Linked DNA regions of Homo sapiens: region 2 is linked to region 1. Evidence: fine-mapped expression QTL. A gene starts in region 1. The other region holds a variant in brackets. All regions are shown on one strand. Distances are between the middles of the regions. Region 1 holds the start of EPB41L1 (erythrocyte membrane protein band 4.1 like 1). Region 2 has its middle 35 kb from the start of NORAD.

Region 1 (2,903 bases):
TACTTAGGAATGATGTGAAGAATGAATGAATAGTTGTGTATGCCTGGAGGTGAGGGTGGTGACTGGGGGTTCGCGGTCATATGGGTTGCAGTGGACCCATGGACAGAAATCTTTGGAGATCATGCTGCGGTTACCCACCATTCTCTCTATGCCTTCGCCATGAACTAGGGACCCTAGAGATAGGAACGTCCAGCCCTTTCGTCATTTGCAAATGAGGCCCAGAGCATGGAACAACTTGCCCAAGGGTACTTGCTGAGCCAGTGGCAGACCTGGACTGGAACCCAGGCCCTCTCCCTCCCAGAGTCCTCTGTGGCTTGAGGTCCCCACCTTCGGATTGTGTGAGATGGAGGTGCTGCAGTGGTTGGACTGGTTTTTTTAGTGGGTAACAGTGCTCCTGGAGGGGAGGAGCATGGCTTACCTTGGTTTTGAGCCATGATCTCTGCCACAAGCTGCTTGGCCAGCCCCTGCCCTTTCCTGGAGCTCAGGTGCACACTCAGCCTGTGCTCAGACACATACAGCAAGTGCGCCTGTACACAGGCCCCATCCCCAATAGGTCCCTGGGCTCTCACTGTTACACTTACTGTCATTGTCACCAAGGCGCATGTGGACAAATGTACACATAGACACCCTCTGGACACACTCAGAGGCACAGAGGATTCCCAGGAGACAGTTGTAATACCTCCTCCCGGTGGGGGAGGACGCCGAGTCCTAGGCGGGTTCTGCCCTGTCGCTGTGCTGCAGGGGTGGTGAGGGGATCCGGCTCCGGTGGGATGGGAGGCCCACTGAGGCTGAGTCACCCCTTCTGAGTCAGGCATGCATCCCCCTCTTCTCTCCTCCCCCTCCCTTTCTCGCTGATGAGCCCCCAAGAGGGCTTGGCGAGAGCAAGGAGGCCCGGGGCTGGCTAGGACCAGGGTGGGGGCAGCCGGGGCGCTCGAGAGGCCCCCCAGCTGCACAGTCCCGCAGTGGTCTGGGAACTGCCCGTGTGGCACGGACCGGGAGGAGGTGGCCTGGGAGCCTGAGAGAGAGGGCGGGGCGCGGGGGGAGGTGGGTGGTAGAGGAGACAGGCAGAGAGGAGGCGGAGGCAGGGGCAGGGCCGCGGCGCGCTGGGAGGCAGGCGCAAGCGGCGGCCGCCCCTGGGCTGGGCTCCGAGGCCGGGGCGGGGGCGGGGGCTGGCCGCGCGTCGGGCGCCAGGCCCGGGGCTGTGGGCACCGTGCCCAGCCCCTGGCGCACGCCGAGCCGCCGCCGCCGCCGCCGCTGCTGCAGTCGGCATCCATCAGCGGGCGGGGGTGTCGCCGAACAGGCTGCTCCGCAGAGCCCGCCGCGACCCCGCGCCGCCCCGCCCCGCGGCCTGCCTGCCAGAGGAGCCGAGGGGGCCGCCCCTCGCCCAACCTGCCCGACATGGGGAACCCCGGGCCCAGGTAGGCACATGGGGGAATCAGGTGGCTCTCGGGGCCGGGGGCTTGCAACATCTAGGCCCAGCCTCCAGCCCTGGGGAGGAACGGGGGCGAGGCCGAGAACTGAGTTTTCAGGCTGTTGGTCCCCTGGCCAGTGTGGGGGAGGGTCTCGCTGTTCCTCCCTACCTACCGGTCTGCAGCCTCCTCCAAGGCCTGGAGAGAGGATCCGGAGGCTGGGGGTTGGCGGGGGGTTGGTCCTGCTGTAGGATGAGCGGTGGGTGGGCGCTGGGCTCCCACCGGCTGGCCCAGTCTCTTTTCGGAGAGCACTCCTGCTGCCGCCTCCAGAGGCCAAGGGCTCTTTGGATTTCTGCTGCTTCTGACGCTGCAGGAGGAGTTCTTGGCTGGAGCCTGGGATGCTGGCGAGCCCTTGCCCTCATCTCTCCTCACTCTGGTTACGGACCCTTCCCCGCTCTGGGCTTGCCTCCCCTTCCGTCTCCCTTCCAAGTACCTCAGAGCTGCTAGGAGGGATCTTAGCCCTAGGACTTCTGCAGTTCTGGCCTGGCATTGTCCTGGCCAGTGACCGTCCCCTGATCAGAGGGAGAGGGCTTGTGTGTCCCACTTGTGTCTGGCACCTTCACACTTGGGGAGGTCCAAGGGCCCGAGAGGCTGGGGTCTCAGGGATGGGCATGGGGGGCCAATGTCTACAGCCATTGGGGTACTTACTGGGTGCAGAGGCCACTGACTGGCAGACGTATATGGCTCAAAGTGGTCCATGGAGACCTTGAAGTCTGGACAAGGACCAAAAGGGAGTTCTGGGGATGCTGGTCTCTCCCTCAGCTGCCAGCCATCGTCGTTGCTTTTCCCTCGGAGCTCTGAGGATGCATTGGTGGGGGAGAGAGCACCACGTGTTCCCACATTCACTTCTGGATCCGCATAGCACCTCCTCTGCACCCAAAGGTGGGAATGTGAGACGGCCAGATTTAGGACCTCTCCAGGGCTGTGCGGGGTCCAGCGGCTTGGCTTCATTCCCACCCCATCCCCCCACCCTCAGCATTAGGAGCCTTCCAGAATCAGTGGCACTTGAGCCAGGTCAAGATCTGGGGCCTGGATGGTGCCCTCCGCAGCTCTTGGAAGACAGTGCCTCCTGTCCCGGGCAAGGGTGTGGAGAATAGAGGCAGCTGTGTGCCTCTCTGCCCACCCATTCCTCCAGATGGAGCCTGCGGCAGAGGCAGCCTGTGCCAGCCTCCCCTATGAGCCACCGTGGCCCAGGAAGGCTCTGCCAGCTCTGTGCAAGGATGGAGCTGGCTTCTCCTGGCCAGCCTGAGGTCATGCCTGCCTGGCAACCCAGGCATAGTATTTATGGCATGCAGAGCACAGTCCCTGGGATTTCAGGGGCACCTCAAGGCAGTCCTGGAGGAGATCAGTGCAGAGGGCATTGTTCCTATTAAAGCCCTTCCTGGGCTATGTGACAGTCCTCCTGGGCTCAGCCCTGTGAGCTTCTTGAAGAGC
Region 2 (2,903 bases), 69 kb before region 1:
TTTCCAAATAAGTTAATATTCTGAGGTTCTGAGGGGACATGAATTTTGCGGGGTACACTATTCAGCCCACTATATAGCATCATCTTTTGCTACTCTTTTGCAAATTCTATTTCTGTTGTTTATCCAGTGTCCATTTATGTGTGGGCAGAGTGGTCATTTTATAATATAAATCTCTGATGAAATGGTTAGACATTTTTCATGAGATAATCTTATTTAATCCTCACAGCAGTGCCGTGAGGTAGATGCTACTAAAATCACCTACTGTTGAGAGGTGTGCCAGTCAGCATTTGCTAAGTATGACGTGATAACAAACAACCCCAAACTCTCAGTGACTTACAAAAAGCCAATTGCTTTCTTCATCACATTACACATCACAGCTGTAGATTCACTGCAGCTTTGCTCTGTGTCTTTTCATTCCAGGGTCCAGGCTGAAGGTGCAGGCCCTATCCAAGACACAACATTTCCAGTGGCAGAGATAAAAAAGTAAGATTTCAGACTCAAACATGCAATGGCACTCCAAGTTTCTGCTTCGAACTGGCATGTATCTCTCTAGCTCACATTTCATTGGCCAAAGGAAGTCATGTGGTTAAGCTTGACAATGGGCTGGGGAAGTGCACTCCTTCCTCTGGAAGGTACACAAGTCACATGGCAACTGGCTAGGATGGATAATTCTCTTACTGGCCAAGGGAAGGGCAAATAATGGAGAAAAATAATACGTCAACCACAGGGGTTGAGTAACTTTCCCAAGATCAAACCACTGGGAAGGGACAGAGGCAGATTCAAACTCAGACAGTCTCCAAAGCCATAGTGAACTCCATGGCTCCCTACTGCCTGTTAGATGGAATCCAAATATATTTAAGCTTTAGGGCATTCCTGCAGCCTGGAGGGCCCTTCTACCTAATTTGTGTGCTGAATTCACTCTTTAAGGCTCCACTCCAATCTCAACTCCTTGGACTCACTCTTATTTGTCATGTGTTCCCTCTGCTCTAAGGCCCTTGTACAGTGTTCCCAAATGTTTGCAGTATTTTGGGATGAAAGGAGTGAGGGGCACAAGCTGCAAGTGGACTGTGCTCCTGAGGATGAGAGCACTTTGCCTACTTTTCCACCCCTCTAAACTAAGCTTAGTATCTTGTGCTTGGGTGACTCTGACAGGTCAGCCCCGCATGACTCACTCTGTAAGCCTTCAGCGC[G/C]GGTCACCACAAGGTCCTGGTTTAGGGTGTGTGAGTTGGTGGGTGGGGAGGGGAGGTGGAAATTAACTTTCACCTTTCAGGAACCTTTCCCTTCCCCAGGAGAAGGACAAGTGTAAGTCCTTCCCTTAAGTAGTCTGGGCAAGTCTCTACTCATCACTCCTAGGAGGACTGGGGAGGTCCTGGAAGGTGCAGAGGAGGAAGCTCTGAGAAGTAGAAACAGCACCAAACTGCACCATAGAAGACTTTACTAATTTGTCCAAATGACAGAATTTACCTTCTCTGAGCTTCAGTTTCCCCAGCTATAAAGTGGCAACAACACTGATCTTGCCCTCCTCCCTAAGTTGCTACAAAAAGACATAGTAAAAATCTTTAGGGTGCCGGGCAGGGTGGCTCACGGCTGTAATCTCAGCACTTTGGGAGGCTGAGGCAGGCAGATCACCTGAGGTTAAGAGTTCGAGACCAGCCTGGCCAACATGGTGAAACCCCATCTCTACTAAAAATACAAAAATTAGCCAGGCATGGTGGCAGGCACCTGTAATCCCAGCTACTTGGGAGGCTGAGACATGAGAATCGCTTGAACCCGGGAGATGGAGGTTGCAGTGGGCAAAGATAGTGCTACTGCACTCCAGCCAGGGTGATGGAGCAAGACTCCATTTCAAAAAAAAAAAAAAAAAAAAATCTTTAAGAATGCAGCCTTGAAATCGCACAGACTTGTACTGGAATCCTTCTCATAAGCTATGTGACTGAGAAAGTTATAGATCTTCATAAGCCATTACAGCTACCTCCCAGGGTGAGAAAATTATGTAAATAAATTTCCTAACATATACTAAGTACTCAATAATGTTGGCTATTCCTATATGAGATGATGAAACTTATTATTATATAGGGAAAGTCCCAGACGAGGACCCATTTTTGAACATTGAAAGGAGGGAGTACAGAGGCTAACTTTTCTTAGAATTGGTTGCTTCTTTTAGCCAAGTATAAGGTGTGGCTCAAAGGAATGAGGAAGCAGTTAATGAGGTGACAGGGCACAGAATACTGTTTGTCTTCACAGATCTTGGGGGAGGGATACAGTGGTTAGCTGACCTTCCCAAAAGATCAGAGATCCTGGTGTCTTGTCCACCCACAGATGCAGGCCACTTGACTCTGTCCTGTCCCCTCCTACCAGTCCAGTCACCACGTTCTGGTGAGGCTGCCTTTGAAATAATAATAACAATGGTACTTGTACTAATGATATTATTACTTTGAAGTGTATGAAGGCTTTCTAATACATCATCCCAGTTATCCTTCATTATCTCTCTCCCATTCACAGAATCCAGAGTTAGGAAGGATATTGCAGATCATTCTGCATTTTACAGATGGGATCTCTGAAATTTGAATAAAGGAAGGGATCTACTCAAGGGCTGGGATTTACCTGAGACTACACAATAAGTTAATGGCAGGGGCAGGACTAGAACCTGCAGCTCCTGACTACCAGCCTAGTGCCAGTGCCTCTTTCAAGTCACACTTGCATTGGCTTTCCATTCCCATGGCCTCCCAGTCTATTCTTTTTTTTTGTTTTTTGTTTTGTTTTGTTTTGTTTTGAGACGAGTTTCGCTCTGTCGCCCAGGCTGGAGTGCAGTGGTGTGATCTCGGCTCACTGCAACCTCCGCCTCCCGGGTTCAAGCAATTCTCTGCCTCAGCCTCCCAAGTGGCTGGGATTACAGGCACCCA

Evidence for each region. PIP is the estimated chance that this variant, and not a neighbour inherited with it, causes the effect. A credible set is the group of variants that fine-mapping cannot tell apart.
Region 2: its variant is the best candidate, but not a certain one, in a credible set for the expression of EPB41L1 in esophagus mucosa (GTEx, PIP 0.59).

The regions. Positions count from the first base shown.
Region 1 is chr20:36,153,479-36,156,381 of GRCh38, forward strand. It overlaps EPB41L1 (erythrocyte membrane protein band 4.1 like 1), which reads left to right and starts at 1,262. Exons shown (of 22, transcript NM_012156.2): 1 at 1,262-1,418. EPB41L1-AS1 (EPB41L1 antisense RNA 1) reads right to left here and starts at 2,282. Exons shown (of 4, transcript NR_147703.1): 1 at 2,118-2,282; 2 at 1,585-1,776. It overlaps LOC124904893 (a long non-coding RNA gene), which reads right to left and starts at 968. Exons shown (of 2, transcript XR_007067572.1): 1 at 419-968. RefSeq lists a silencer at 1,001-1,200.
Region 2 is chr20:36,084,759-36,087,661 of GRCh38, forward strand. No RefSeq gene overlaps it. Among named protein-coding and RNA genes, the nearest start is that of NORAD, 35 kb to the left of the region's middle. The variant G/C (reference allele first, on the strand shown) is at 1,191.